4 separate regions of the Homo sapiens genome follow, and regions 1, 2 and 3 are each linked to region 4. The links come from fine-mapping of genetic effects on gene expression. A gene starts in region 4. Each other region holds a variant in brackets. All regions are shown on one strand. Distances are from middle to middle.

What was found. PIP is the estimated chance that this variant, and not a neighbour inherited with it, causes the effect. A credible set is the group of variants that fine-mapping cannot tell apart.
Region 1: its variant is the best candidate, but not a certain one, in a credible set for the expression of IAH1 in lymphoblastoid cells (TwinsUK, PIP 0.83).
Region 2: its variant is the best candidate, but not a certain one, in a credible set for the expression of IAH1 in fibroblasts (GTEx, PIP 0.78).
Region 3: its variant is the best candidate, but not a certain one, in a credible set for the expression of IAH1 in iPS cells (PhLiPS, PIP 0.63).

What each region holds. Positions count from the first base shown.
Region 1 is chr2:9,503,095-9,510,792 of GRCh38, reverse strand. It overlaps ADAM17 (ADAM metallopeptidase domain 17), which reads left to right. Exons shown (of 19, transcript NM_003183.6): 11 at 662-814; 12 at 5,428-5,627. It also overlaps a transcript of IAH1 not described here. Among named protein-coding and RNA genes, the nearest start is that of IAH1, 32 kb to the right of the region's middle. The variant AC/C (reference allele first, on the strand shown) is at 4,433.
Region 2 is chr2:9,744,623-9,752,320 of GRCh38, reverse strand. No RefSeq gene overlaps it. Among named protein-coding and RNA genes, the nearest start is that of TAF1B, 95 kb to the left of the region's middle. RefSeq lists enhancers at 1,147-1,216, 1,517-1,596, 3,444-3,523. The variant T/G (reference allele first, on the strand shown) is at 4,541.
Region 3 is chr2:9,447,120-9,454,817 of GRCh38, reverse strand. CPSF3 (cleavage and polyadenylation specific factor 3) reads right to left here. Exons shown (of 18, transcript NM_016207.4): 11 at 6,468-6,620; 12 at 1,797-1,905. Among named protein-coding and RNA genes, the nearest start is that of IAH1, 24 kb to the left of the region's middle. The variant C/T (reference allele first, on the strand shown) is at 3,670.
Region 4 is chr2:9,469,771-9,477,468 of GRCh38, reverse strand. It overlaps IAH1 (isoamyl acetate hydrolyzing esterase 1 (putative)), which reads right to left and starts at 2,918. Exons shown (of 6, transcript NM_001039613.3): 1 at 2,822-2,918; 2 at 1,430-1,482. The coding sequence starts at 2,902. It overlaps CPSF3 (cleavage and polyadenylation specific factor 3), which reads right to left. Exons shown (of 18, transcript NM_016207.4): 17 at 6,030-6,126; 18 at 4,368-4,553. The coding sequence ends at 4,452. RefSeq lists enhancers at 1,299-1,859, 2,340-3,107 and a silencer at 2,377-3,146.

The DNA of each region.
Region 1 (7,698 bases), 33 kb before region 4:
TGGTGTGATCATAGATCACTGTAGCCTCAGCCTCCTGGGTTCAGGTGATACTCTCACCTCAGCCTCCCAAGTAGCTGGGACCACAGGTGTGCACCACCATGCCTGGCTAATTTTTTTTTTTTTTTTTTTGAGACGAAGTCTCGCCCTGTCTCCCAGGCTGGAGTGCAATGGCGTGATCTCAGCTCACTGCAACCTCCGCCCCCTGGGTTCAAGCAGTTCTCCTGCCTCAGCCTCCCGAGTAGTTGAGATTACAGGCGCGTGCCTCCATGCCCAGCTAATTTTTGTATTTTTAGTAGAGACAGGGTTTCACCATGTTGGCCAGGCTGGTCTCGAACTCCTGACCTCGTGATCCACCTGCCTCAGCCTCCCAAAGTGCTGGGATTACAGGCGTGAGCCACCATGCCTAGCCCACCTGGTTAATATTTTTTATTATTTTTGTAGAGATAGGGTCTCCCTGTGTTACCCAGGCTGGCCTCAAACTCCTAGAGTAAAGTAATCCTCCCATCTCAGCCTCCTAAAGTGCTGGTATTATAAGCATGCAGTTCTTATTCTCTTGTTGATCTGATTATAAGGCTCTATTTAAGACAGCATAGGCCCAACTGGCAGAAGTAGGTGATGGCTGGATATTGAGAAATAATGTTTTCTTTGCATGATCCTTAAGGAAGCTGACCTGGTTACAACTCATGAATTGGGACATAATTTTGGAGCAGAACATGATCCGGATGGTCTAGCAGAATGTGCCCCGAATGAGGACCAGGGAGGGAAATATGTCATGTATCCCATAGCTGTGAGTGGCGATCACGAGAACAATAAGGTATGTGTGTGTCGAGAATTTTTTATGTGGTTTGGAAAGAGGCTGTGTATAATGATCATAATGAGAGCTCAGAAACGTATTCCATTCCTAGGCGTTTCCCTAGGGATGGATGTGCAAATTACAAAGTACCTTGAAACGTGGTTGTGTGTTTTGGGGTGAAGCACGGTTCATCTAAATCTGGTTAAAACTATCATTTGGACTTTGTTGTCAAGCTTAATGGTGTAGATTTGAGCTCTAGGAAAAATTACTAATAATAATGGCTTTTTTTGGAGTTCTGGATTTCAGGGTCTGGTGGGCTCAGGCTTTATGTTAAAAATTTGTCATTTCATTTACAAGTTGTCATTCATTTTAACTCTACAATTTACATGTACAGTTTACACGTTTTTATTAACTTTTGCAGTTAAACACATAGTTTGCCTGACTACAAGCCTCATGGGAGAAAGGCCCTTCCTTGTCTGTCTTATTCATAGCTCTATCTTATTCATAGCTCTATCTCCAGTGCCTAGTAGGAGTATCTGGCATGTAACAAATATTTGTTGAATAATTAATGGAATCATTTACTATTGGGGGTTTCTGATAGAGAATACTAGTTGATTTGTGATACTGTAAAACACTTTCAGAGACTTTAAGAGTGCCGTGACTAACTCTTAGAGTCTGAACTAAAAGTTGTGTTAATAAATATCTGGTTCTTTCATTTTATTTGAAGTTAAACAGCATAAAGCAGTGTGAGGAAAACAATAGTTGCACTGCTGAGTTAAAGAGGGTCGGTGGGGAGAGCTTAAAGGAGTCTGATTCTAATCACAAAAGATTGTGAAGTATTTGTCCTGACTCCTATTTTGAGCTTGGCTGTGGGCTAATGTGCAAGCCTTCCCTGGACACAGAGGGCAAGATTACTTCTGCTTTTCCCTGGCTCTGACACCCTGCTTTCTGAAATTTCTGCCTCCTGTTCTTTTTGTGATCTTTGATTGTTGCATCTCATTTTTTTTTGGCTTTTTATGTATATTTTCTGCATCTCATTTTCTTTGGCTGTTATGTGTAAACAGTTCCTCTGTTACTTTGCATGTTATGTTTTATTTTTCCTCTGCTTGACAACTTGTGCCAGAGAAACATTTTTCTACCCCTTTTTGTCTACTCTTCCAACCTGTCAAACTGTTGAATTTTCCTTCTCTTTTCATAGTCTCTGCATTTCTAATCATGTTCACTATAGTTCAGTGCTGCCCAATAGAACTTTCTGCTGCGGGGCGGGGGATGTTTTGTGTCTGCTCTGCCCAGTATAGTAGCCACTAGCCCAGTGGAGCAATTGAAATGTGGCTAGAAACTGAGGAACTGAATTGTAAATTCTATTTTATTTAAATTTTTAATAATGTTTGCCTGTGATGGGAGACGGGAATGGGCATTAACTGTAAAAGGACATGAGTGAGATTACTGGAAGGATGGAAATGTCCTAAAATTGACTTATAGCAATGGTTTCAACACTTGGTAAAGTTATTAGAAATCACTGAGTTATATACTTGAAATGGATCAATTTTGTGATATGTGAAATATGTCTTAATAAAGTTGTTAATAAGCCAACAAACAAAAACAGCAGTGTGGGAGCAGAGGAAAAGTAGCGCGGATGTAGAGGAGCTGTGAAGTCATAAGTTGATTATTGTTGAAGCTGGTGAGGGGCACGGGGGCATTCATGATACCATCCTGTCTACTTCATAGATGCTTGAATATTTCTGTAATAGAAACTGTAAAATATGTGACTAGGAACAAAATTTAAGTAGCCACATATGGTTGGTGGCTACCATATTGCATACTGTTTCTCTAAGTAATAGGTCATATGCTTCTTGGTTATGAGGATAGTGTCAGAACTTGGGAGCAAAATGTTTTACTTTGCAGACTGCCTGGGTGGACATGCATGCTGCTGACTCTTCCTGCTGCCAGTTCTGGGGCTCTTCAAAACAGCCCTGTAAGAACTTGCCAGTGAGGCATGGTGGCTCACACCTGTAATCCCAGCACTTTGAGAGGCCGAGGTGGGCAGATCACTTGAGCCTAGGAGTTCAGGATCAGCCTGGACAACATGTGAAACTCCATCTCTACAGAAAATACAAAAATTAGCTGGGCATAGAAGCACATGCTTGTAGTCCCAGCTACTCAGGAGGCTAAGGTAGGAGGAACCCGGGGAGTTCAAGGCGGCAGTGAGCCAAGGTTGTGCTACTACACTCCAGCCTGGATGACAGAGTGAGACTTTATCTCAAAAAAAGGAAAAAGAAAAAAAAGAACTTGCTAATGAGAATGGGGCCTGGGAAGAACTTTTTTTTTCTGGAGCTGCCAGTCTGTATCAATGAAGAACAATTTATTTATTTTGTCCTGAGCACATCATATTTAGTCTGTGTTTTTCTAGTTTGGTTGCCCAAGTAGGAGTCCCCTTGTAAGAAGATAATGTGCATCTTCTATGTTTTATTTATTTATTATTATTTATTATGATTTTTTGAGTGGAGTCTCACTCTGTCGCCCAGGCTGGAGTGCAGTGGTGTGATCTCTGCTCACTGCAACCTCCACCTCCCAGGTTCAAGCGATTCTCCTGCCTTAGCCTCCTGAGTAGCTGGGGTTACAGGTGCATGCCACCACACCTGGCCAATTTTTGTAGTTTTAGTAGGATGGGGTTTCACCATGTTGGCCAGGTTGGTCAACTGACTGGTCAACAAACTCCTGACCTCAGGTGATCCACCTGCCTCGACCTCTCAAAGTGCTGGGATTACAGGCATGAGCTGCTGTGCCCAGCCTATGTTTTAAATGAATTCCTTAATAAAAATATTTTTAACTGATGAAAAGGGCTTACAGGACAAAAATAAAGTAGTTCCTTGACCTAGAAAGACAGAACCCATCACCCTCTACTAGGCAAGCCTATGAAGAGCAGTTTGCCACAGGTGGACTTCTCTGTGGACAGATGACATTAGTGAAAAGGAATGTAGGACCTTTGAGATTGTAACTTCTTAGGAAGGTTTGCTGAACGGAAGAGGAAGTCTTATGACAAGGATGCAAACAGAAGCTGCCAGATCTTCAGGGATGTGTAGGCAGAAAGCCAGAGTTGCGGGTTGGTCCTTTTATCGTTAGTGCTCTCCAGCTGCTTGGGAGTTGTAACTCTGACAAATCAGTGAAGAGGTCTTCTTATCTGTTCACTGTGAATTTTAACTCCATTTTAACCTGATAAAATGGAACCCAGAGATACATGATGTTGATGAATAAACCCACCAAAATGACAACTGCCTGAGGCCCCGATTAGAATAACCAGACCCCTTAGACATCTGTACTGTAACGACAGATTTGGGCCGGGCGCGGTGGCTCACGCCTGTAATCCCAGCACTTTGGAGACCGAGGTGGGCAGATCATGAGGTCAAGAGATCGAGACCATCCTGGTCAACATGGTGAAACCCTGTTTCTACAAAAAATACAAAAATTAGCTGGGCGTGGTGGCATGCACCTGTAGTCCTAGCTACTCAGGAGGCTGAGGCAGAAGAATCACTTGAACCCGGGAGGCGGAGGTTACAATAAGCCAAGATTGTGCCTCTGTAGTCCAGCCTGGTGACAGAGCAAGACTCCATCTAAAAAAAAAAAAAAAAAAAAAAAAAA[AC/C]AGATTTGAAGATGTTTTTTAAAAAGCCAGTTAGTATTTCTGTGTAAGATGAGGTCTTTGCTATCTTTCTGAAAGTAGCTCCTTTGGTGTCTGATTTGGTGGTTACAGGCACCTTTGGAGGGTCTCATACACTTGGCTCTCAGGGGCTTCATGATTGTTGTCTGGGGTGAAAGTGAAGCCATTTTGGCATCTGCAGAGCACTTTGGAGACCCCGACCTAAGAAGTAACTATGCTCAGTTTTCCCTAAGCCTCTTCTTTTTTTGATAACTTCAGGAGGTCTGGAAAATGACCGCAGTTTTAGAGCTCCTGATAAAACCCTCAGCCTTAAAAGGGAGTTATCCTAGTGGTTCTGTACTCCAGGGTGGGAAGGTAGTGTAGAGACTTTTTGAGACACTGGTCTTGCTGGTTGATGAAAATGTTTAGGTAACAATTGGGGATTTAATTTATATAAAATGTACTATTATGCCTATTACTAAGCTCAAATATTTAAACAACTTTAAACTTGGATCATCCATATAAGTAGCCAAAGAAGGAGAAGAAACCCCTTCTCCTGCATTTCTGAATTGTTTTGTCTGGGACAACATTAACCTACAGAGGTTCTTAATTCTTGTCACTGCATGAGTGGCATGCCTGAGGTGAGGAGATTTCAAGTCTGATGGAGCTACGAGCTCTCTGTTGTGCTATTCTGCTTGTCCTTAAGTGGGCTTTGACTGGGATGTTTGGTCTCAGTATTTGTATAGCTTGCTTACCTTCGTAAGAAGAATTATAGATCCTTAACCAAGTTCACATCAGCCATTTAGCATTCTATGGAGGGAGGTTCCCAGTTCCATATCAGTGGCCTTTGGAGGAGACTGTGGTGGCCTTGCCATAACTCCAGGGTGGCTCTGATGGTGGTTTTACATTAAGAGTTTGTCTCTAGAGAAGACACAAACATTGCATGGGAATACATTTTTATGATATTATTTTGGGTCCTTATTGCCTTTTTTCTCTCAAGATGTTTTCAAACTGCAGTAAACAATCAATCTATAAGACCATTGAAAGTAAGGCCCAGGAGTGTTTTCAAGAACGCAGCAATAAAGTTTGTGGGAACTCGAGGGTGGATGAAGGAGAAGAGTGTGATCCTGGCATCATGTATCTGAACAACGACACCTGCTGCAACAGCGACTGCACGTTGAAGGAAGGTGTCCAGTGCAGGTGAGGAGTCTCTCCACAGGGATTTTGGGAAGTTGGTATAACAAGATGTCCAAAATAAGAGAAGACTGAACTTGCAGGGGCTTTAGAATCAACTGAAAGGGGTGTGAGTGTGTTTGTTTACATCTACCTCTTTTGCCCTTCACAGCAAGAAATTGCTTTCTGGGCCTGGCACGGTGGCTCACTCCTGTCATCCCAGCACTCTGGGAGGCTGAGGTGGGAGAAATGCTTGAGAACAGCCTGGGCAACATAGTGAGACACTATCTCTTAAAAAACAAAAAACAAATAAGAAAAGAAGAAGCTTTCTGGAAAGCAGTGTGACATTATGTAACAAAATCCTTGACCTTGCATGCTCCTTGGTTTAGCAGTCCTATAGTTAAAAGAATCTTTTTTTTTTTTTTTTTTCCTGAGACAGAGTCTTGCTCTGTCGCCAGGCTGGAGTGCAGTGGCGCGATCTTGGCTTACTGCAATCTTTGTCTCCCGGGTTCAAGTGATTCCCCTGCCTTAGCCTCCTGAGTAGTGGGACTACAGGCACGCACCACCATGCCCGGCTAATTTTTTGTATTAGTAGAGACGAGGTTTCACTACGGTGGCCAGGATGGTCTCCAACTCCTGACCTTGTGATCCATCCACCTTGGCCTCCCAAAGTGCTGGGATTACAGGTGTGAGGCACCGTGCCTGGCAAAATAATCTTTTTTATTTAATTTAATTTATTTATTTATTTTGAGACGGCGTCTCGCTCTGTTGCCAGGCTGGAGTGCAGTGGCGCGATCTCAGCGCACTGCAATCTCCGCCTCCCAGGTTCAAGCGATTCCCCTGCCTCAGCCTCCCCAATAACTGGGACTACAGGTACGCACCATCACGCCTGGCTGATTTTTTGTATTTTAGTAGAGACGGAGTTTTAGCATGTTGGCCAGGATGGTCTCGATCTCCTGACTTCATGATCTGCCCACCTTGGCCTCCCAAAGTGCTGGGATTACAGAGGGGAGCCACCGTGCCTGGCCTTTATTTTCTTTTTGAGACAGGGTCTCAGTCTGTTGCCCAAGATGGAGTGCAGTGGCATGATCATGGCTCACTGCAGCCTCAACCTCCCAGGCTCAATCAGTCCTTCCACCTCAGCCTCCCGGATAGACAGGACTACAGGTGTGTGCCACCTGGCTAATTTTTTTTGTATTTTTTATAGAGATGGGGTTTTGCCATGTTGCCCAAGCTTGTTGTAAAGTCCTGGGCTCAAGTGATCCACCCTTCTAAGCCTCCTAAAGTGTGGAGATTCTAGGTATGAGGCACCATGCCTGGCCCAAATAATCTTTTATTTCTTTTTTTTTTTTTTTGAGACGGAGTCTTGCTCTGTCGCCCAGGCTGGAGTGCAGTGGCGTGATCTTGGCTCACTGCAACCTCCGCCTCCTGGGTTCAAGCCATTCCCCTGCCTCAGCCTCCCCAGTAGCTGGGATTACAGTGTGCACCACCACGCCCAGCTAATTTTTGTGTTTTTAGTAGAGATGGGGTTTCACCATGTTGGCCAGGCTGGTCTCGAACTCCTGACTTCGTGATCTGCCTGCCTCAGCCTCCCAAAGTGTTGGGATTACAGGCGTGAGCCACTGCTCCTGGCTGCCCAAAGAATCTTTTGGGCAACAGAGATAAGATTTAACAAGGGTATAAGATTTAACAAGGTTTTTTTATGGCTACATCCTAATAGCAAAATTTTGGAAACAATCAAAATGACAGTCTTGGGATATGAATGTTATCATGATTCTATATACTGGAATAGTGTGGAGGAAGTAGGTTACAAGTTAGAAAGTTACCCAGGTTTTCATTTTTTATATACACTGATAGACCAGTGCCTGGCTTAGAAGTAAAAGGGTTAAACTTCAGTTTTCTGGTGAATAATTGAGATTTAACTGGATACAGTGCATATTAACGCTGTAAATACTGATGGGGAGTAGAGTTCTGGCTGCCGAGTGTCTTAGCTATGGATTGCCTTGTGGCCCCACCTTGTCTTTTTTTTTTTTCCTTGTCTTTTTTTTTTTTTTTGAGAGAGTCTCGCCCTGTTGACCAGGCTGGAGTGCAGTGGCGC
Region 2 (7,698 bases), 270 kb before region 4:
AAAATTAGCTGGGCATGGTGGCACGCGCCTGTAATCCCAGCTACTCAAGAGGCTGAGGCAGGAGAATCGCTCGAACACAGGAGGCGGAGGTTGCAGTGAACCAAGATCACACCACTGCACTCCAGCCTGGGTGACAGAGCAAGATTCCGTCTCAGAAAAAAAAAAAGGAAAGAAAGAAAGGAAGGAAGGAAGGCACTGCTGGCTGCGTGGTGGAAACCAGTCTGCTGGAGGGCAAGAGTGGAAGAGGCCATTGCAGTCACTCAGGCCAGCGGAGACGTGGGTCTGGCCGGGCCACGGCAGTGGAGGCGGGAGGAGCGTAGGGTGCAGGGTGCATATTCTGGCTGCAGAGCGGGGTTTCTTGGGGCGCTGCTACCGACATTTTGGACTGGAAGACACTTCACTGTGGGGTCTGGCCTGTGCACTGTAGGGTATTTAGAAGCATCCCTGGCCCCAATCCACTAGAAACCCATAGCCCTACCCACCCCCAATTATGACAATAAAACATGTCTCCAGACATTGCCAAATGTGCCCTGGGGGCCACGGTCCCTCTGGGCTGAGAACCACTGCTGCAGAGCCTGCAGAACTCAGGGCTAGATTGTGCATGGATTTGGAGCGAAAGAGAGAAAACAAGCACCACCAGGGGTTTCTCATCTCAGCAATTAAGTGGGGCAGTTACTGAGTTCAGGAAGCCTTGGAGCCAACGGCCGCTGTCAGGTTGAACACTGGAAAACAACATTGGAAACTACAGTCTGGAGCTCAGGGAGTATCTGGGTTGAAGGGAGAGACGGGAATGTTGCTGGGGTGCAGCTCTCCAGGGACAGAGTGTGGACGGAGAAGAGCCAAAGAGACAGCTCCAATGTCACAGCCTCAGAAAGAGCGGACACCAGGCCAGTGGGCCTCACAGGAGCCAGGGGAGACACTTGCAGGAGCAGGAGCAGGAGCGGTCTGCTGGGTCAGATGCGGGGATGTCTGAGTAGCATGCGGACAGTGAGCTGGGTGAGGAAGGAGGGAAAAGCTAAGCCCCTTCCCAGCTGCAGGCTTCCTACCTGCAGCAAGCTCAAGACAGCAGAGGCAAGAAGACTTCATTTTCACTCAAATTCAGGACGGGACATTTAACCTTCCTGCAGTGAGACAGTTTTTATTAACTAAGAGCAACCAGAAACGTAATAGGATTGCCTGAGTTTGCAGCAGTGGCCGAGAAGAGGTGATTCCCCTGACTAAATCAGGACAGAGGAAGGAGTTGCTTTGTGATTTGATCCTGAAAGTGCTGCTAATTCAACGCATTGGCCACATTTGGTCTGTAGGCACAAGGCCAGGGTTGAGAGAGCTGCTGATGGGGGACCTGTGATGGCCTGGAGCCCAGCCCAGCCTGTCAGCTGTAGGTGGGACTTCCCAGACCCGTCCAACCCAAAGCTCCACCACAGAGAGGAGACAGCCATGAACTTGAGTACAGGTAAAACAAAGCAGAATTAGTGAGTGCTACCATCAACCTACATGCTGAACACTGGGGAGAATAGAGGAGGAAGCCACGAGTCTGACAGGGGTGAGGAAGGGTGGAAACCAAGGAGGGCTGCTCTGAGGAGGTGACACTTAAACTGGGCCTTGAAGGGAGAATTTCAACAAGCAGAGAAAGGAAATCATTTTTTGTGAGTTTTTAGGGTACTCCCTCCAGTAACTCCCCTCTCCCCCAACTCAAATGGACTATTGTGATATGGCCAGAACAAAGCTAGGCACTTTCTTATCTAGATTTTTCCATTTCACATGCAAAAGAGAAAAAAAAAATCACCTCTGATTTTTCTCCTTGGGATGTTTCATTCTAAAAAACTAATTCATTCAACATTTATTTATTAAGCACCAACTACATACCAGGCACGATTAGCATTCTGTGTTTTAACTCACTTATCCTCCGTAGTCCATGGAGGTGCGTACCAGTATTATCCCCATTTTACAGATGAAGCAACTGATGGACAGAGAGATTAAGTAACTTGCCCAAAGTCTCACAGCAAGTACCTGCAGAGCTGGGATTTGGGCCCAACTCTAATAGTTGGGGTCCAGAGTCTGAGAGCTGCACCATTACTGTCCGTGGCCCTTTCTTTCATGGAAAACTCAGGGCGATTGGCCATTTGCAAAGGAGGAAGAAAATGCACCTGCCGCTTCTTTGATCATCTTCCATGAACAGGTGCAATACTTCCCCGGGTCTGAGGCCAGTTCCTCAGTTCATTCATCCCACCTGTTCCATGAACAGGTGCAATACTTCCCCAGTTCATTCCATGCCACCACAACTGGCTTCATGGCTCTAGTTTGTGGTCAAAGCATCTGCTCCCACCACTTCTGGGGCTAAACTGGGAAAAGCGAAAGCCAATGTAGCAGGCCTGGGGCAAGGGCTGATCTCTCCTGGAAACCAGGAGACAGCTTGGAGAGCTTGGGCTCCAGACAGGTATCTATCACAGGCCAGTTGGGCTTCCCTTGCAGAACCTATGGGAACCTGCAGGATGAATTAGCTAAAACTCCCCGTGGCCACTCCAATGCTAAAAGCCATATAGCTGGTCCTCTCAGCCTCCCGTGACTTCTCTCTTGTCCACATGCCCCGCTGGGTCCTCCCAGCCACCCGTGCCCTGCCATGCAATCAGGCGTCCAGCTCCTGCTGACCTTCCTGTCTCCCCTCCATCACCTTATTTCAGGTCCTCAGCATTTCTCACCCAAGCAGTTGCAATAACTTCCTAACCAGTTTCCCAGTCTCCAGGCCTGCCACCCCCTAACTCCCAATTCATTTCTTAAAGTGAAGCTTTATTGTACAGCTTCCCCTCTGAAGAAACTTTGGTGGCTCCCCAATATCCTACTGAAATAAGTATAAACTGCTCAACTTGGCAATCAAGCTCGCGTTCATCCATCCCAGGCCACCAGCCCCCTCTCTTACTGATCCCCTCCACCTCCTCTGATCTGTCCTTACCCATCCCCTTGCTGCCCCTACCCCCCACGATCAGCCCCACAGCTTTCTCTCCACCTCTCCATGTCTGAATCTGTTATGATCCAGCTCAAGAAAGACTTCTTGGACCATCCTAGATGAAAGCAATCACTTGCTTTGAATTTCTGAGGCTCCTTTCATCAGGTATATATTGCCTTGTTTGATTCTCCAGACACCCATGAGTTGCCTAATGCCACCCTGGTGTTCTTCTCCCTGCCCTACATAGGCTGGGCACAGAGGCAGTGAGAACAGCATGACACAGGCTTTGGGACCACCAAGCTCTAGCTCTGTCATTTGCAAACAGCTTTACCTGGAGTAAGTCTTGAAATACCTCCTGTAACATTTCCTCTTCTGTTAAGTAGGAATAGAAAACTACTTCCCACGCTCTACGAGAATTAAATGGGGGCAATGCATGTAAATGCTCAACAAATGACTAGGACGAGAAGGGAAGGCCCAAGGCAGATAACCTCCCCTCTGTTCTTTCACATTCGCATCTATAGTTTCACAGGGTTTTTTTCCTCCTAGTAAAATTAGATCCTGACACATATTCAAGGAACACTCTGCAGCTGTTTCTCCAAGAACAGAGAGCCTGGGGATGCCCCATCTTCAGCCCATCAAGCCCCAAGTGCTTAGTCACCTGCTTAGCCCAGACATGAGGGATGCCATAAAGAAAAGCAAACAATAACACACCCGTGACAAAGCCATTTACTAAATTAGTAGGGGCAGGGAGCATACAACCCTGAAAGAGCGATTAAACCTTGCATTTGCTCCAAGCCTATTCCTTTTCCACATCTGCATTTGCCAGGTCATCTCTTCCTGACAGTCTTATCCTTTTTGTGCCATGGACCCCTTTGGTAGTTTGGTGGCTGCCAATAATGAATCAAATAAAATAATACATAGAATTACTGTCTTAATCTGTATTCTGTTGCTACAACAGAATATCACAGACTGGGTAATTTGTTTTTTTAAAGAAAGGTTATTTAGCTCACCGTTCTGGAGGCTAGGAAGTCCAAGAACATGGCACCAGCCCTTGGCGAGGGCCTTTGTGCTGCATGACGATGCATCCCAGCAAAGGACATGGTGACAGAGCAAGAGCAAGATAGCCAGAGAGCTCCATTTTATAACAAAATCACTCCTGTGATAATGAACCTACTCCTATGATAGTGACATTGATCCATTCATAAAGGCAAAGCCCTCATGAATCCATTAATCCATTCAAGAGGGCAAAGGGATTAGGTTTCTAAAGCCCTAACTTCTGGGGGACACATTCAAAACATAGCAATTATGAAATAAACCAGCTACTATATGTTGAAAGACAGTGGCTCATGCCCTTAATCCCAGCACTTTGGGAACCTGAGGCGAGAGGATCACTTAAGCCCAAGAATTCAAGGTTGCAGTGAGCTGTGATCACACTGCACTCCAGCTGGCAACAAAGTGAGACCCTGTCTCCGTACATACATACATACATACATACATAAAATATATTTCTGAAAAGCTGAGGAGTCTGTGAGAATTGAAATTAAGTAGGCAGGGTTTATCCTCAAGCCTGATGTGACTTCTGTCTGAGTTGTAGAA[T/G]AAGGGGCCACGTTTAAAACTAAGTAAGAACTAACAGGCAGCTTCATAAACATTTCAGAATCCCGTGACCCATGAAGTGAAGTGAATTGACTCTCTGGGGGTAGGGGAGGGGTCTCTGAAGATGCTGTGACCATCAGCCACATCTTCCCCAGGGCTGGGGGCATGAGCAGCCTTGGCCAAGCGGGGGGACATCCCAGTGCCAGGCCCTGGGATAGAGACACAAACCCACTGTGACACCTTTCACTCCAACAGACCTGCTGCATTCTGTGCTGTGCAGGGCCAGCTTCATGCCCATGTGACCTGCAGAGTTGTACAGAGCCCCGCACTTCCAAGGCTCCTGTAATTAGTTTAATGTTGTCATCATGTTAAAAAAATTTTTTTTATTTTTTGAGATGGGGTCTTTCCGTCGCCCAGGCTGGAGTGCAGTGGTGCAATCATGGCTCACTGCAGCCTCCACCTCCCCAGCTCAAGTAACCCTCCCTCCTCAGCCTCCCAAGTAGCTGGGACTACAGGTACATGCCAACACACCCAGCTAATTTTTAAATTTTTTGTTGAAATGGAGTCTCACTCACTACATCGCCCAGGCTGGTCTCAAACTCCTGGACTCAAGTGATCCTCCCACCTTAGCCTCCCAAAGCACTGAGATTACAGGCATGAGCCACTGAGCCCTGCCAAAATTCCTAATAATTTTTGAACAAGGGGCCACACATTTCATTTGGCACTGGGCCTCCCAAACTGTGTAGCCTGGTCCTGATGCCATGACAGGAGGTTTGCCTTGTGGGTCACAGGAGGAACACTCTGCCTTCCAGAACCCCTGAGATCAGGGGGGGCAGGTTAACATGAGGACGGGTCCTTTGGATAACTGGCTGAGCCTCCCCAGGTGAGAGTTCCACACCAAGGACTTAGGACTAGGCCTAGGACTAAAATGGTAATTAGTACGAGAGCTGTGCTTATTATTAATTTGAGGTTGTTTGTTTGGAAAGCTCATGGTAAAGGCAACAGTAGGGCGATGTCTAGATCAAAGAAGAGGAATGTAATGGCCACCAGGAAAAACTTTATAGAAAAGGGGGGTTGCCTGGATTATCTGGCACTGCCCCAGGAAAAGCTTGGGAGCAGATGGCTCTCCCACCCCCACTCAGAGTAGACGACAACTCCTTGGGCTGCCCAGACTGAGGGAAATGTCACTTAAGAGTGGCCAGGCCTCTCTGCTTGGATTCTATGCTCCAGGGGGGCGCCCAGTGATCCCATTTCCCGGCCCTCACAGCCTGCTCTTGGAGTGTGGACTCAACTCAGTAAATACAGCCACAGTGATGGGATGTCACTTCTGAGGTTAGGTTATAAAGGACACAGCAGCTTCTGTTTTAGTGGCACTGTCACTTGCTCATTACCAAATCACTTACTCTGGGGAGTCAACTGCCCTGGAGACACCTATGTGGAGTCTGGAGGTGGCTGGGGGTCCTTGGGGGCCCTAGCCAACAGCCATCCTGGAACTGAGGACACCAGCCACCAGCCATGGGAGTTCCCCATCTTAGAAATGGATCCTCCGGCCTTCCGGGATTTCAATGATGCAGATCTAGCCAACGACTTGACTGCAGCCTCGCAGGAGAGTCCGAGCCAGAGGTACCAGCTAAGCTGGGCTTCCGACCCTCAGAAATTGTGTAAGATCATAAAGCTGTTGTAAGCTGCTAGGTTTTGGGGTACTCACTATGGGTCCATAGGTAATGCATCAGCCTCCAATTTCTCACTGCCCTACCCCCACCCCCAGCGGTCCTGAGCCCCTAGAAGAAGAGCCGGGACGTGATCCACGTGGTCACTCCAGCATGGCCAAGCACAGGCAAGCATCTGCAGACTTCTGGAAGGAATTGCGGCGAAGCATCTTCGAAGGATGTTAGAGGCCCCCAGGTGAAGATAGAACCAGAGGATAGGATTTGCTTCAGTAAAGGTGATTGGGATCATTGTTTTCTTCTTCAGGTGCTCTGGCCAGGGAAAAGATGAAATTCACACCTGTTATATTCACTTATCAGCTTAATTCTCTCCAGGTAAATATTATGAAGTTGTAATATGATCCTGTGGCCCCTGTTCAAGAATTTCGGCTCATGCCTGTAATCTCAACACTTTGGAAGGCCAAGGTGGCAGGATCACTTGAACGAGACTCTGTCACTATAAAAAAATTTTTAAATTAGGTGGGTGTGATGGTGTGCAGCTATAGTCCCAGCTACTCTGGAGGCTGAGGTGGGAGGATTGCTTGAGCCCAGGAGATCAAGGCTTATCTAATATTTACAAAGCACCTACTAAGTACCATGCACCTAATCCTTATAAAAGCCCTGGGAGGTGAAATTGCCAATCTCATTTTTGGATGAAGAAACTGAAGTCAGAGGACAAGGAAGTTGCCAGGGTTGCAAAGCTAGTGAGTGGTCCAAAAGGAATGCACACCCAATGTGCCCTGATTCCCAGTTCTAGGCCTTTCCATGGCACTGTGCTTCTTCACACAGTGGGTGTGGGGAGGAAAGGGGATGGCGGTAACAGGGGGAGGCACCACTTCTCTAAGGTGGTGGGAAGGGAGAGACATTTCTGGATTCATGAGGACACCTGTTGGCTTTCTCCTTGGACCCTTTCCCCTCCTGCTGCAAAATAGACAGGACACTCACAGGGGACCAAGAGTCAGGGCAGCCACCAGCGCCAATGGTGCTGCCTGCAGAAGGGGCTGAGCTGGGCTAAAGGCCCCACTGAGGTGGCCCAGGGAGTGACCTTGAAGATAGAAGTCGGCAGAAGAGGGGGATGGGGAGGACTGTGGTGGGGAAAAGACAGACCTTTGTTCTCAGGTGCTCCAGGAGGGATAACAGGACTGTGAGGTGCGGTGACAGGAAGGCAGGGTCGCAGGCAGGGTCACAGGCAGCATAGCTGTCGGCTTTCCAAAAATCAGAGCTGCCTGTAGACAGGCTCCCCTGGAGGCGGGAGCTCCTGTGGCAGGTGTGGACTCCAGCTTGCACAGCCTCCTGCCGGGATTGCAGAGGGGTCACCCTCCAGTGGGACAGGCTTCCAACATTCTTCAGACACTTTCTTAACATTTTATGAAACCATTTTATTACAAAGCCTCACATGATCATGATTAGGCTTTTAGTATCCGTAATTGAGAAAATGTGCAAGAATGAAAAGCC
Region 3 (7,698 bases), 23 kb after region 4:
AATCCCAGCACTTTGGGAGGCCTAGGCAGGTGGATCACGAGGTCAGGAGATCGAGACCATCCTGGCTAACACGGTGAAACCCCGTCTCTACTAAAAATACAAAAAATTAGCCGGGCATGGTGGCAGGCGCCTGTAGTCCCAGCTACTTGGGAGGCTGAGGCAGGAGAATGGCATGAACCCGGGAGGTGGAGCTTGCAGTAAGCAGAGACGGCACGCCACTGCACTCCAGCCTGGGAGACAGAGTGAGACTCCATCTCAAAAAAAAAAAAAAAAAAAAAGAGTATAAGAGCTCACTAACTCAGAATGAAGGCACAAGTCAGACAGTGACCTATGATGCTATGAAAACTGACAGCAGGGCAATCTCACAGGTAAATACCTCACCACTGCTGCTATTTCTTTCTTTCTTTTTTGAGACAGAGTCTCGCACTGTTGCCCGGGTTGGAGTGCAATGGCGTGATCTCGGCTCACTGTAACCTCTGCCTCCTGCATTCAAGCAACTCTCTTGCCACAGCCTCCCAAGTAGCTGGGACTACAGGCACATGCCACCACACCCAGCTAATTTTTGTATTTTTAGTAGAGATGGGGTTTTACCACGTTGGCCAGGATGGTCTCGAACTCCTGACCTTGTGATCTGCCCACCTCGACCTCCCAAAGTGCTGGGATTACAGGCGTGAGCCACCGTGCCGGGCCACTGCTATTTTTTATTCCTGCATAAAGCACATATAATGTATTAGTACCATGTAAATCACCTTGAGCATAGTATTTACTCGAAAATAATACCATATTCATTGGAAAATGACTTATTGATGGCTCAGTAAATTTATAAAGACAAAGAATGCATATGGAAATGTGTATCAACTATGGGAAAAAAGCAATTTACAAACTTAAATGTAATCTTATTAGTTTTGTGCAATTTTTCCTTTTTTTTGAGATGGAGTCTTGCTGTGTCACTAGGCTGGAATGCAGTGGCATTATCTCAGCTCACTGCAACCTCCACCTCCCACTTTCAAGCAATTCTCCTGCCTCAGCCTCCTGAGTAGCTGGGACCACAGGCACGTGCCACCACATACAGCTAATTTTTGTATTTTTAGTAGAGACGGGGATTCACCATGTTGGTCAGGATGGTCTCGATCTCTTGACCTCGTGATCCACCTGCCTCGGCTTCTCAAAGTGCTGGGATTACAGGCGTGAGCTACTGCACCCTGCCCAATTTTTCATTTTTCTCTATAATGAGCTTCAATGTATACACACACATTAGAGGCATCAGTTATATAGTTGGTGTTACTTATTTGGATGTTGAAAGTTTCAATGTAATGAAAAAATTAGGCTTTACATTAATACTTTTTTGCTTTTAAAGAAATTATACAAGTTTTTGTTCCTACTCCTTTTGGAATGGTGAAGGAATACAAAGGCCCTGCAAGTGATGTAAAGGTCATAAAAAACTGAAATGCTTATGCAAAGGTCATAAAAACCAAACGGCTTCTCTGGGGAATCCAAAGTCACTTCAGAAAATAAAAGCCCACAAGTCTGTTGTAGAGGGTAGAAAACAAGGTGAACTCAGAAATGAACTTATGTTTCCAAAGATGAAGAAAGTGATTTCACCAATAATTTCAATCTTTCAGTAGTTCATGGGAGGTGTTTTTCTCTCCCCACAAAGCTAATTAGCTAACTTGCCTCATTCCTTTTTTATTATTTGTCTATTACATAACATTAGGCCACAAGGTGAAGAGAAGTTTTCATAGATTTTCTTTCAGTGCTAAGGTGAAGTTGGATTTGACATTTAATAGTATACTTACTGGACAGGTCGCAAGGAGAAAGTATGTGATAATTAAAGTTTCTTTTAACAAGTATTCCTGAGACCCGCTGGCCTTGTTCTGGTTTTTTGTCTGCTAAAAATCCCATAACCTGTAAAAAAAAAATACTTGAAGAAAATAGAACCTGGTAAAATGCAGTTTTTCAGGTAATAAAATGCAGTTCATCATAATGAAGACCATAACACCTTTGAACTATGAAAACAACATATGGATTTAACCACGAAAAACATAAAATGTTTGATATCTCTATGATGAGGGCAGTTGCATTGCTACCAATGTCAAAGGGAAGAGTCACAGTGGCAGATCTGGCACAGTTCAGTTCTAATCAGTTCAACAAGCAAGTAACTTACTAGGTGCCGGGGCTTAAGAAAGCTCTCACTAGCTGCACTGCAGTAGGGAAGGCCGGGAAGTCCCCGTGAAACGCACACATGCACTCCCTCAGGCTGGCTGCAAACTCATAACAGAGAGTGAGGCCCACTGATACAAACCTGGGAGGCTGTGGTACACCTAACACTAAAAGCAGCAGCAGCGGCTTTGAATAAAAAGGTCAATAAAAACAGGTTATGGGTGAGCTCATACATTGAGGGAGAAACATTTTTAAGAGAATAAAATAACAACCATTTAAAAACAAAAATACTACAAACGTGAAACCCACTATTCTTTTTTTTTTTTTTTTTTGAGACAGTGTCTCACTGTCGCCAGGCTGGAGTGCAATGGCACAATCTCAGCTCACTGCAACCTCTGCCTCCCGGGTTCAAGCGATTCTCCCACCTCAGCCTCCCAAGTAGCTGGGATTACAGGCACCTACCACCATGCCCGGCTAATTTTTCTATTTTTAGTAGAAATGGGGCTTCACCACATTGGCCAGGCTGGTCTTGAACTCCTGACCTCAGATGATCTGCCCACCTCGGCCTCCCAAAGTGTTGGAATTACATGCGTGAGCCATGACACCCAGCCCCACTATTCATTTTTAAAAAGTTTCATTTATGGCCGGGCATGGTGGCTCACGCCCATAATCCCAGCATTTTGGGAGGCCAAGGCAGGCGGATCATGAGGTCACGAGATTGAGACCATCCTGGCCAATATAATGAAACCCCGTCTCTACTAAAAATACAAAAAACTAGCTGGCCGTGGTGGCGGGCGCCTGTAGTCCCAGCTACTCGGGAGGCTGAGGCAGGAGAATGGCGTGAACCTGGGAGGCGGAGCTTGCAGTGAGCTGAGATCGCGCCACTGCACTCCAGCCTGGAGACAGAGCGAGACTTTTTCTCAAAAAAAAAAAAAAAAAAAGTTTCATTTATTTATTTTTCTGAGACAGTCTTGCTCTGTCACCCAGGCTGGAATGCAGTGGTGCGATCATCGCTCACCATGTGCGCCACCATGCCTGGCTTATTTTTGTATTTTTTGTAGAGATGGAGTTTCACTATGTTGCCCATGCTGATCTTCAATTCCTGAGCTTAAGGGATCTGCCTGCTATGGCCTCCCAAGGTGCTGGGATTACAGGCGAGAGCCACCAAGCCTGGCTGAAACCCAGTATTCTTAAATATAACTTCTCTCAACTGCAAATAAATGAGCTCAAAGGAATAAAGGTAGTGTGTTCCATACTTGTTTGCCTTTAAGCAAGTAAGGGCAAACAGCAACCAGGCAGTGCTATATTTGTTCTCATAATTATAAACACAGAGGGTTGTATTTCACAGTATTTCCTAGGGTTATTTTCTCCTTAATTGTAGGTAGCTTTCAGAAAAGAACCTTTGCTCCTAGGAGACTAATTTTAATACAGTGATGTACTTGAGAGAGAAAAATAACTAAAGGTAATGATTTTAAATCATTAAAATTATGGGTGAGAAACAGAACACTC[C/T]GATAAGAAACCCAACTTTTCCTGAACTCAGTTCAATTCATCTTCTAAACTGTCTGACTGCAAAACTTTTTTTTTCTCCCCACATATCCACCACCAGCAGAGTATGTGAAATACAGTTCTAGATTCTCAACTGAGTATATTTTTCTACAGGTATAAGAAAAATACTATTAAATCGGCCCCTGAAAAGTTTTGTGGACAGTAAGACTCAGGAGTAACTACGACTATTTACAACAAAAACCTCATACCCTAAGTTTTGCTAATTTCTTTTTTTCCTCCAATTCACCTTCAAGAAAGGATATTCATTAGCGTCTGCAGGTTTGGCTCATTATGTATTAAAAGTGTGTCGTAAAGTTGCTTTTTTAAGACGGAGTCTTGCTCTGTTGCTCAGGCTGGAGTGCAGTGGCATGATCTCGGCTCACTGCAACCTCCGCCTCCCAGGTTCAAGCGATTCTCCTGCCTCAGCCTCCCGAGTGGCTGGGACTGCAGTTGCGCACAACCACGACTGGCTAATTTTCGTATCTTTAGTAGAGACAGGGTTTCTCCATGTTGGCCAGGCTGGTCTCGAACTCCTGATCTCAGATGATTTGTCCGCCTCAGCCTCCCAAAGTCCTGGGATTATGGGCGTGAGCCACAGCACCTGGCCCATATGTTGATACTTAAACCTTCAACTAAATCATTAAAAGTTTGAGCCTCAGACTGGGCACGGTGGGTCACGCCTGTAATCCCAGCACTTTGGGAGGCCAAGGCACGTGGATCATTTGAGGTCAGGAGTTCGAGACCAGCCTGGCCAATGTGGTGAAACACTGTCTCTACTAAAAATACAAAAAAAATTAGCCGGGCGTGGTGGTGGGCACCTGTGATCCCAGCTAATCAGGAGGCTGAGGTAGGAGAATTCCATGAACCTGGGAGGCGGAGGTTGCAGTGAGCCGAGATGGCACCATTGCACTCCAGCCTGGGCGACAGAGCAAGACTCCTTCTAAAAAAAAAAAAAAAAAAAAAAATTTGTGCCTGTAGTCCTAGCTACTTGGGAGGCTGAGAGGGGAGGATCAGCTGAGCCTAGGGAGGTCGAGGCTGCAGTAAGTCATGAATGCACCACTGCACTCCAGCCTCGGCAACAGAGTGTGACCCCATCTCAAAACAAAAAAACAGAACATGGGAGTTGCACATATCTCTTCAACATAATGATTTCAATTCCTTTTTAAAAATTTAAAATTATATATGTAATTTTTAAAAAGTTTCTCTTAGAAGTATTTCTAAACGAGTTGTGATCAACAGAAGTAAAGATGCAGACTTCTGACAGCATCCCTCTAAAAAGCCAGCTCAGGCTTTCCTTAACTATTTCAACTTTAAATTCTGAAAATGTTACATTTCACTCTCAAAAATGATTAATTCTTTTTTTATTTTTTTGAGACAAGGTCTTGCTCTGTCACCCAGGCTGGAGTGCCGTGACAGGACAATGGCTCACTGTAGCCTCAACCTCTGGAGCTCAAGCCATCCTCCCACCTCAGCCTCCCAGGTAGTTGGGACTACAGGAGCATGCCACTGCACCCAGCTAATTTTTGTATTTTTCGTAGAGACTGGGTTTCACCACGTTGCCGAGCCTGGTCTTGAACTCCTGAGCTAAAGCGATTCGCCTGACTTGGCCTCCCAAAGTCCTGGGATTACAGGAGTGAGCCACCGTGCCCAGCCTTGATTACTTCTTTTTTGTTTGTTTGTTTGTTTTGAGACACAGTCTCACTCTGTCACTCAGGCTGGAGTGCATTGGCGCGATCGCAGCTCACCGCAACCTCCATCTCTCAGGTTCGATCTCAGCTCACTACAACCTCCACCTCCTGGGTTCAAGGGATTCTCCCGCCTCAACCTCCCAAGTAGCTGGGATTACAGGCACCTGCGACCACACCCAGCTAATTTTTTTATTTTATTTTTATTTTTGGTAGAGCCGGGGTTTTACCATGTTGGCCAGGTTGGTCTCCAACTCCTGACCTCAAGTGATCCACACACCTTGGCCTCCCAAAGTGCTGGGATTATAGGCAGGAACCACCGTGTCCGGCCGATTAATTTTTAAAGAGAAAATGTTTCATATATTCCATCATATCTACACAAACATATATGTTTAGAGATATGAGCCTATCTTCAGATTCTCAGGGAGAATGACAAGAGGTGGACACAAGGCTATACTGGCTACAGTAACAAACAGTAACAAACAGTTCTTTACCCTCAGATGTGGGTAGGAAAAGCAAGTGGGGATATGGATTAAAGAGCTATGAGATTCAGCTGCATTAAGATCTAATCTAGGCCGGGCACGGTGGCTCACGCCTGTAATCCCAGCACTTTGGGAGGCGGAGGTGGGTGGATCACGTGGTCAAGAGATCAAGACCATCCTGGCCAACGTGGTGAAACCCCATCTCTACTAAAGATGCAAACATTAGCTGGGCGTGGTGGCGCGCACCTGTAATCCCAGCTACTCAGGAGGCTGAGGCAGGAGAATCGCTGGAACCCAGGAGGCGGAGGTTGCAGTGAGCCGAGATCGCACCATTGCACTCCAGCCTGGTGACAGAGCGAGACTCCGTCTCACACACACACACACAAAAAATCTAATCTAGCTGAACATTTTCCACCTGAAGAAATGAATGCACAGAACCAAAAGAAGCCAAAAAGGATAAGGATAAAATTCCTGTAGTGTAACAAGTAGACAGAAATAAGCATATTCTTTTGACTAAAGATCTATTTTCTTAAGAAGTACAGTCTTTCCTGAAGAAAAAACATGGATTGGACAGACAGGAACCATAACCTTTTACCTTGGCTAGTTTTTCTCCTCTGAAGTTTAAGGTCACTGCTTCTGTATTCCGAGGATTATGAACCTCTATGTGAACTTCATCGTTATCTTCATATTCTCGAATCAGTGCTGCTTTCAATCTGGCCATTTCATTCTGTTCTCCATGGACTAAAATCTACATAGAATAAATGTTAAAAGAATATATGGAAACATCATTCAGCTTAATCATGGTCCTTAAGTTGAATTAAATATATGAAATATATTTAATATATGAAATAGAGACATACTTGGAAGTTATGAAACTTTACTACTTTTAAGGACCTCCAGCCGATTCAACTTGTATACACATATTCATTCTGTTTGATCCTTATGTGGTACTATTTGAACAAAGAGTAAAGAAACTTCTTTTCTACTCCAGTCTTTGCCACTAATGAGATACACGCCTTTTCCATGTTTCACTGCTTCTATGTTCACAGTTGTAAAGGGCTGACTTCTGTAGTCTCTTCTAGTTTTAAATGCCTATGACTCTTGTACAAAACTATTGCTACCCTACTGTCTTAGAAAACACCCATGGTTCTCTTTTTTCTCTTTTTGTGAGATGGAGTCTTGCTCTGTCGCCCAGGCTGGAGGGTAGCAGTGGTGTGATCTCAGCTCACTGCAGCCTCTACCTCCTGAGTTCAAGCGATTCTCCTGCCTGAGCCTCCCGAGTAGCTGGCACTATAGGTACACGCCACTATGCCTGGCTAATTTTTTGTATTTTTAGTAGAGACGGGGTTTTACCATGTTGGTCAGGCTGGTCTCGAACTCTTGACACCCACCTTGGCCTCCCAAAGTGCTGGGATTACAGGCTTGAGCCACTGTGCCTGGCCTACCTCATATATTGATATATTTTTGGAGACAGGGTCTCACTCTGTTGCGCAGGCTGGAGTCCAGTGATGTGATCATGGCTCACTGCAGCCTCAACCTCCAGGGATCAAGCAATCCTCCTGCCTCAGCCTCCCACGTAGCTGGGACTACAGGCACACGCCACCATGCCCGGCTAATATTTGTATTTTTTGTAGAGACACGGTCTCACATATTGCCCAAGGTGGTCTTGAACTCCTGGGCTCAAGTGATCTGCCCATCTTGGCCTCCCAAAATGCTAGGATTATAGGCGTGAGCCACTGTACCTATCCTAATAAAATATTTCAGAACCAAATGGAACATTTTATTACTTTATATATTTCTTTATTTAAAGAGAGTCTTGCTCTGTT
Region 4 (7,698 bases):
GATTTGGGATTTGCTTCAGAATAATCCATAGGAGGGATGGATGGGCTCATTTCACTCTTTGCTTCTGTAGATATTTAAAGTTGTCCATAAAGTTTTCTTAAAATGACGCCTGGGGTTCAACTTATGATTAGTAAATCAATATGGTTCATTTTGCTGTATTCACATTCCCATACATGCATAACCAAGCAGAGAAGCTGGGGCACCCGCGGAGAACTGCAGGCCACAGCGTCAGGCAGCGGCTCCAAAGCAGCACAAGGGGACACTTTCTGACACTGCTCAAAGTTCTCAGGTGGCATTTATAAACTGCAGAACCACCACCGAAACTCAGCCTTATTTCTAAGAGATTGTTTGTGTGTGTAATGATTATAAAATGCGACTAGCCATTTTACAGAGTGAAATCACAATACTTTAATGAAGTGCTGGGCTGGGTGTGGTAGCGAGTGCCTGTTGGTCCCAGCTACTCAGGAGGCTGAGGTGATGATGCCTTCAGCCCCAGAGGTGGAGGCTGCAGTGAGCCCTGATCACACTGCTGCACTCAAGCCTGTGTGACAGAGTTGTCAGGCCTCTGAGCCCAAGCTAAGCCGTCATAACCTGTTACCTGCACGTATACATCCAGGTGGCCTGGAGCAACTGAAGAACCACAAAAGGAGTGAAACAGCCAGTTCCTGCCTTAACTGATGACATTCCACCATTGTGATTTGTTCCTGCCCCACCCTAACTAATCAATCGACCTTGTGGCATTCCTCCCCTGGACAATGAGTCTCAGGAGCTCCCCACAGAGCACCTTGTGACCCCCTTCCCCTGCTAACAATAGATAACCACCTTTAACTGTAATTTTCCACTACCTACCCAAATCCTATAGTACTGCCCTACCCATCTCCCTTTGCTCTTTTCAGACTCAGCCCACTTGCACCCAAGTGAATAAACAGCCTTGTTGCTCACACAAAGCCTGTTTGGTGGTCTCTTCACGTGGACGCGCCTAACAAGAGACCCTGTCGCAAAACAAAAACCACCAAAAACCAAAACAAAGTGCGGTAGAATTGTGACAAGGTGAGTCTTAAGTCATGGCAGCACTTCAAAAAAAGGCAAAGTAGCTTCCTACCAGTGTGGTGTAGCAGTGAAACTGCAAGTTCTGCAGTCATAGCAGCTGGACTTGGATCTGTCTGCCCCTGACTAGGGAAGAGGCCTTGGCCATTTCCTTGATTTGTCTGAGTCTACCCAGCCATCAGTGCTCAACCCTAAAATATCTAATTGGTCAGACTGAGTGAAGAGTAAATGTTTTCTGTTCCTTCTCCTATATACTGATTAGGGGAGGCAAGCAAAATTAATAAAGGAGGAATGTTCTGTTCAGAACTATCCTTCATCCATAAGACGGATCCCTAAGACATTTTCCATCCATAAGAACTCAAGTATCGGAAACCATTCTCACCTGACCAGCCTGTCAGCCAGCGATGCTCCCCATCCACCCTGCTGGAAGGAAAACTGGAGGAAGAAAAGCCCATTATTACTACTAATGACTGTAACCGGGCATCTCAGCGAGGGCAGTTCTGATTGGCAACTTCTGTTTTCTCGGCGCTCCCTTCTTGGCTTTGATTGCTTCACTCCAGGAGGTCATTTTGGGGATTACAGGTAAGTACACCTGGCAGCACTTTAGCAGAGGGGGATTTTTCTCTATCAAAAGCTAAACAGCCTGTATTCCCAGCACTTTGGGAGGCCAAGGCGGGCGGATCACATGAGGTCTCGAGTTCGAGACCAGCCTGGTCAACATGGCGAAACCCCGTCTCTACTAAAATTACAAAAATTAGCCCGGTGTGGTGGCGCACGTCTATAATCCCAGCTACTCGGGAGGCTGAGGCAGGAGAAACGCTTGAATCCGGGAGGCGGAGCTTGCAGTGAGCCGAGATCGCGCTACTGCACTCCAGTCTGGGCGACAGAGCGAGACTCCGTCTCAAAAAAAGAAAAAAAGAAAAAAAAAAAAAAGCTAAACAGAAATCTAAGTTCAGGAAATAAAGTCAAAGGTCAGTGAGGAAATGAAGGCCACACCGCCTCACTGCTTTGCTGGTTACCGAGCTGAGGGTGAACACTTTTTCATACACATTCCCATGGAATTCGGCAGCTCTGACTGCCCCATATGCCTAAACATAATGTTACCAGTTACTGGCGTATACACAAAAGCCTGGTGAAGCAAGTCCTGTCTGAGAAGAGGACACACACAGGAATGGAATTTCTACTCCCTCCCCGAAGTAAGAACCTGCATTTAGAAGACCGTTCCCTTCATGGGAGGTGAGATGATCTTGGATGAACGGATGGTCCTTTTCTACCTAATTCCTGAAGGCGTTTTACTTCCAAGGTCAACCCCTAACGGCCCCACCTGTGCCCGCAGGGAATGGGGCGAGAGAGCTCCTGGCGCCTCTGCCCGGAGCTGGCCGCGGGGCCTCCTGGGACACAGCGCGCGGTCGCCCGCGGCCGCTAACCCGGACCCGGAGGGGAAAGGCCGCTGCCCAGGAGGGCGCTGAGGGGAAGACCGCGCATCTCGACCCGGGTGGGAGGCGGCGCGGGGCGGGCAGCGCGGCCGGGTCCCCTCGCGTCTGTGCCTGGAGCCCGGGCTCTCGCGGACGCCGTCGTGACCTCCGGGACGCCGCGGGCCCGGAAGGCGCAGCCACTGGGGGACCCGCCACTCCTCCGGTGTCTCCACGGGCGTGGCCAGGCCTCCGGCCCAGCCGTCTCGGGCGCCGAAGAGGACGGCGAGGAGCCTCGGCCTGCTCGGCAGCGACCCCGCAGGGAGGCCGGGGCGGGAGGCCGAGCGTCGGGGCGGCCGTACCTGGGTGATGGAGTCCCCGAAGAGCAACAAGCGAGGCCAGAGCAGGGCACTCCCGCAGCCCGCGGCCTCGCACAGCGCCATGGAGCAGCCGGGCGGGGCGGGGCGGGGCCGCCAGCCACGAGAGGCGCCTGCGCAGTGGCCGCCCGTGGGTTGCGGGAGCCGGGCTCGTGGGCACCCACGCAGTCACTTTGGTGACGCGCGAAGGTCGTTGCCCCTTGGAGTCCGTTTGCAAGAAGCTCGGCCTCCGCGCTTGCTCACCCACAGCAAGGCTGCCCCCAGGGAGTCCGGAGCCCGCGTCCCGCTGCGTGGTTCCCGGAAGAAAAGCGGTTGGGGGCCCTTCTAAGCCCACCCCGCGCTCCGCGGGCGCAGGTGCGTTCGGCAAAGGGCAGGAGTGTGACCTCAGGACGCGCGGCGGGAAGCACAGCTGGCTCTCGGTGGGGCGGAGGGCTGCTCCAGGCCCCCCTGGAAGAGGTCGTGGGATGCGCGCGCGGCCTCCTGCGCCCAGCGTCACTCTGGAGGGCCTGTAACACCCACGAGGACGCAGGCACTGCGGAAACCCTGGCAGTACCTCGTGGTTCTGCGAATGACAAGGGAAAGCAGCTGCACCTTCAGTGCGCGCGCAGCCGGCCGCTTTTCTTTTTCCCGCCGTGGGGTGGATGCGCAGATGCAGAACCCCGCGGACACGGAGCACTGACTAACTTCCAAGGGATTCACCTGTTAAAACGTGGTTGTAATGCAACGTTCTTACCTCAACTGTGCAATGAAGTTCGGCAGCCGAGCTAAAAACGAACGGGTGGGAAGGATGCCTTGAAATCACGGAGCTGTAGATGAGTAACAGAAGGGCCAGGGGCGCCGGCGCAGAGGCCGACCCCGCTCCCTGGGGCGGGGCGATGGGCGTAGAGCATGACTTTCTTTAGGTTGCTCGTCCCAAGCTCGCTTGGATCACCTGGGGGAGCTTTACAACTAAGATCCAACCTAGGGCCCTCATTCCAGCCGGACTAACTCACCTCCTGGTGGCAGGACTTGGGCACAGGTGCACTTGTGATGCACCCCACGTGATTCCCACGGGTAGCCCAGATTGAGAGCCCCTGCTAGAGCAAGCAAAGGTGCCTGGACTTCATCTTTATCACAAGGACTTCATTAAGGCCTTCAAGCAGCAGAGGCTTGAGGCCAGGTCTGTTCCAGGAATCAGCTATAGGGGAGGAGATGGAGGTGGTTGCAGGAATTCAGAGGGGAGAGTAGACTTGGACTCGAACAGCAGCAGTGGAGATGAAGACAGAAAAGATTCAAGTGCAACTTAGAATCCTTATTATTAACTCAAATTGGTTACCCCAGAGGAGAGGGTAACCAGCAGCGGTTGCTATCGGCAGATCTTGATGGTTTCAATGGGAGCTGCACATACATGCCTGGAAGAAGAATCCAAAATTCTAAAATAATGGGCAGTTGATCTAGTAGTTAGTTCTAGAATAATGGACAAATTAATTAGCAATTTAGCAGTATTCAGGCTGTTGAAATAAAGGCCATTTGACATTAAAAGTAAACAGGCTCCCCCAGAGAAACGAATGCATTTTATTTTAGGTAACAAAAGTAGAGTCAAGTATTTTTTCAAAGTTCATATACAGGCACAGTCTCAGTGAACTGGCGTCAGGGCCTCGTACAGTCTCTGTGCAGCCAGCTCCACCATTTCTCGGAGGGATTCATCGTCTTCACTTCCCTCTTCACATTCTACAGTCTGAAAGTGAGGCACAAACAAGACTGTTAGAATTAAGTCTATAATGATTATATAGAAGATAAATGAATACTCTTTAAAAAAACCATCATCTCATAAAAAATTAGCCAGCTGTGGTGGCGTGTGCCTGTGGTCCCAGATAAGAGTCTGAGGTGGGAGGATCACTGAGCCGGGAAGGTTGAGGCTGCAGTGAGCTGTGACTGCACCACTGCACTCCAGCCTGGGCGGCACTGCGAGACCGGGTCTCAAACTAAAAAAAAGAACAATCATCTGTGTGTGCAGAGGTCATGGTGGGACTGATTACCATGAAACAGAACGGCCGCCCTACACACTTGTGGGCGTGCAGTGCTTCCTGACAGCAGCACGGTCCTAATTAGTGATGACTTGAGGCTGGGGTGAAAGACTGGGGAAAGTCTAGTAAACTACATTTACATCAAAGCCCACAGTTTGATCTAGTAAATGATACTCCAGGGAAGTTCATCTATGCCACACAAATTACTTGGCAAGGAATGGATGTGGCTATCTACTCAACATTTGGTACTGAATTTGACTGAAACTCACTAATAATCTTCTAGTTGCTTCTTTTTTTTTTTTTTTTTGAGACAGAATCTCGCTCTGTCGCCCAGGCTGGAGTGCAGTGATGTGATCTCAGCTCACTGCAACCTCTGTCTCTTGGGTTAAGGTGATTCCTGGGTTCTCCTGCCTTAGCCTCCCAAGTAGCTGGGATTACAGGCACACCACCACGCCTGGGTAATTTTTGTATTTTTAGTAGAGATGGGGTTTCATCATGTTGGCCAGGCTGGTCTCAAACTCTTGACCTCAGATGATCCACCCACCTTGACCTCCCAAAGTGTTGGGATTACAGGCGTGAACCACCACGCCTGGCCTCTAGTTCTTTTTTTTTTTTTTTTTGGAGACAGAGTCTCGCTCTATCATCCAGGCTGGAGTGCAGTAATGTGATCTTGGCTCACTGCAACCTCTGCCTCCCTGTTTCAAGCAATTCTCCTGCCTCAGCCTCCTGAGTAGCTGGGACTACAGGCAGCTGCCGCCATTCCCGGCTAATTTTTTTTGTATTTTTTAGTAGAGATGGGGTTTAACTGTGTTGCCCGGGCTGGTTTTGAACTGTTTGGAAAATCCACTTGGATCTTGCTGGTGCAAACAGAAGAGCGGCTTCTTTAAAAAATGGAGAGTCAACTAGATGCCAAACTAGAGAAGGGATGAGGTGAACTAAGCTGTATTATGGAAGAGGACAGCAATGGAGTGGCATACACGCGAACCTTGTACTATGCAGTAACCCGGAAAAACACGGAAAACTTCAACCATAATAATATAAAAAGAACAATGTGAAAAAAATGTTGGAAACACTGGAAGCAAATGCCAATATGCAACAGTAGACTGTTGAGTGTGAGAGCACAGATTATTTATGCCTTCACTTTATTTCCCAAATGTCTTGAAACGTAGGAAAGAGCAGCTACATACCCGTGTCTCCAAGTTAAGGTTGGCAGTTTTCCCGTCCACTGTGACGCTAAGAATAGAGTCATCCTTTACACTTACACAGTCTTCTCCAAATATGTCCCTGAAAATAAGCAGAAATGCAGGATTAGTGAAAATGCCCGGCTTTATATATTTGAGGAAAAAATAAAACTGAAGATAGGTCCTAGTTCTAAAGCAGAATACTGTATTTACTTTTTTTCTTTTTTTTTTTGAGATGGAGTCTTGCTCTGTGGCCCAGGCTGGAGCGCAGTGGCACAATCTTGGCTCACTACAACCTCCGCCTCCCGGATTCAAGTGATTCTCCTGCCTCAGCCTCCCTAGTAGCTGGGATTACAGGTGTGCACCACCACAGCCAGCTAATTTTTGTATTTTTAGTAGAGTCAGGGTTTCACCATGTTGGCCAGGCTGGTCTTGAACTCCTAGCCTCAAGTGATCCACCTGCCTTGGCCTCCCAAAGTGTTGGGATTACAGGCAGGAGTCACCATGCCCAGCCTGTATTTACTTTTGAGACAAGCTTCTTATTTGCCTTGATACAGCTTATTAAGTTTATAAAACAGGGAAAATACACAGCTTTATTCAAGAATGATCTATTCAGCAGGCATCATGCTAGGTGGTTTATATACATTATCTTAACCTATAATTTTAGTAAGGATCCCCTTTTACATGTGAAGAAAACAAGACACAGAAGTTAAGTGATTTGCTTAAAGCCTCACAGCTAGTAAACAGCTGAGCCGGCATTCAAATCCAGGTATCTAGGTTTAAATGGCTCCCAAGCCCACTAGCTGTGCACTCCTACTTTAATTAAACTTGGTATTTATTGAGCATCTTCTGTGTGGCAGATTCCTTCTGTGCTAGTAGCTGGGGATAAAGAAGGCACTAAGACATTGCCTCTGTCATCGAGAGAAACAGTTTTGATGGTTAATTTCAACATCGTCCCCATTGGTACAGAGGTGTTAGGAAACAGCAGTCCACCAGCAGGCTGAATGCAGGTAAGAAAGGCAGGCAGTGACTCTAAACAACCCATGGACCATGGTCAGCCTAGGACAGTTAAGCACTGACAACACTGTATTAAGCGGGGGAAGTGGGGAGTGGGAATCAACTCCTTGCATCTTCAGGCAGTTACTGCTCATCATATGTGTGAATAAACTTAGGTGGGACCCTAGCACAAAGGAAAAGATTATATTTTATTTTATTTATTTATTTTGAGACGGAGTCTTGCTTGTTGCCCAGGCTGGAGTGCAGTGTCCCGATCTCGGCCCACTGCAACCTCTGCCTCCTGGTTTAAGCAATTCTCCTCCCTCAGCCTCCTGAGTAGTTGGGATTACAAGCACCCACCACCACACCTGGCTCATTTTTGTATTTTTAGTAGGGGTATTTTGGATGGGGTTTTGCCATGTTGGCCAGGCTGGTCTCGAACCCCTAACCTCAAGTGATCCACCTGCCTTGGCTTCCCAAAGTGCTGGGATTACAGGTGTGGGTCACCACACCCAGCCAAAAAAATTATATTTTAAACACAGAAATGTATTCAAAAGGATAGGAAAAAAGGTTCCATTTTCATGTGATCCACTGTTGGCTTCTCTGAAGAAACCAATACATCTACTCCTATCTAATCCTAAGTGTTTAAACAACTGGGGAAATAGCTGCATTTTTAAGG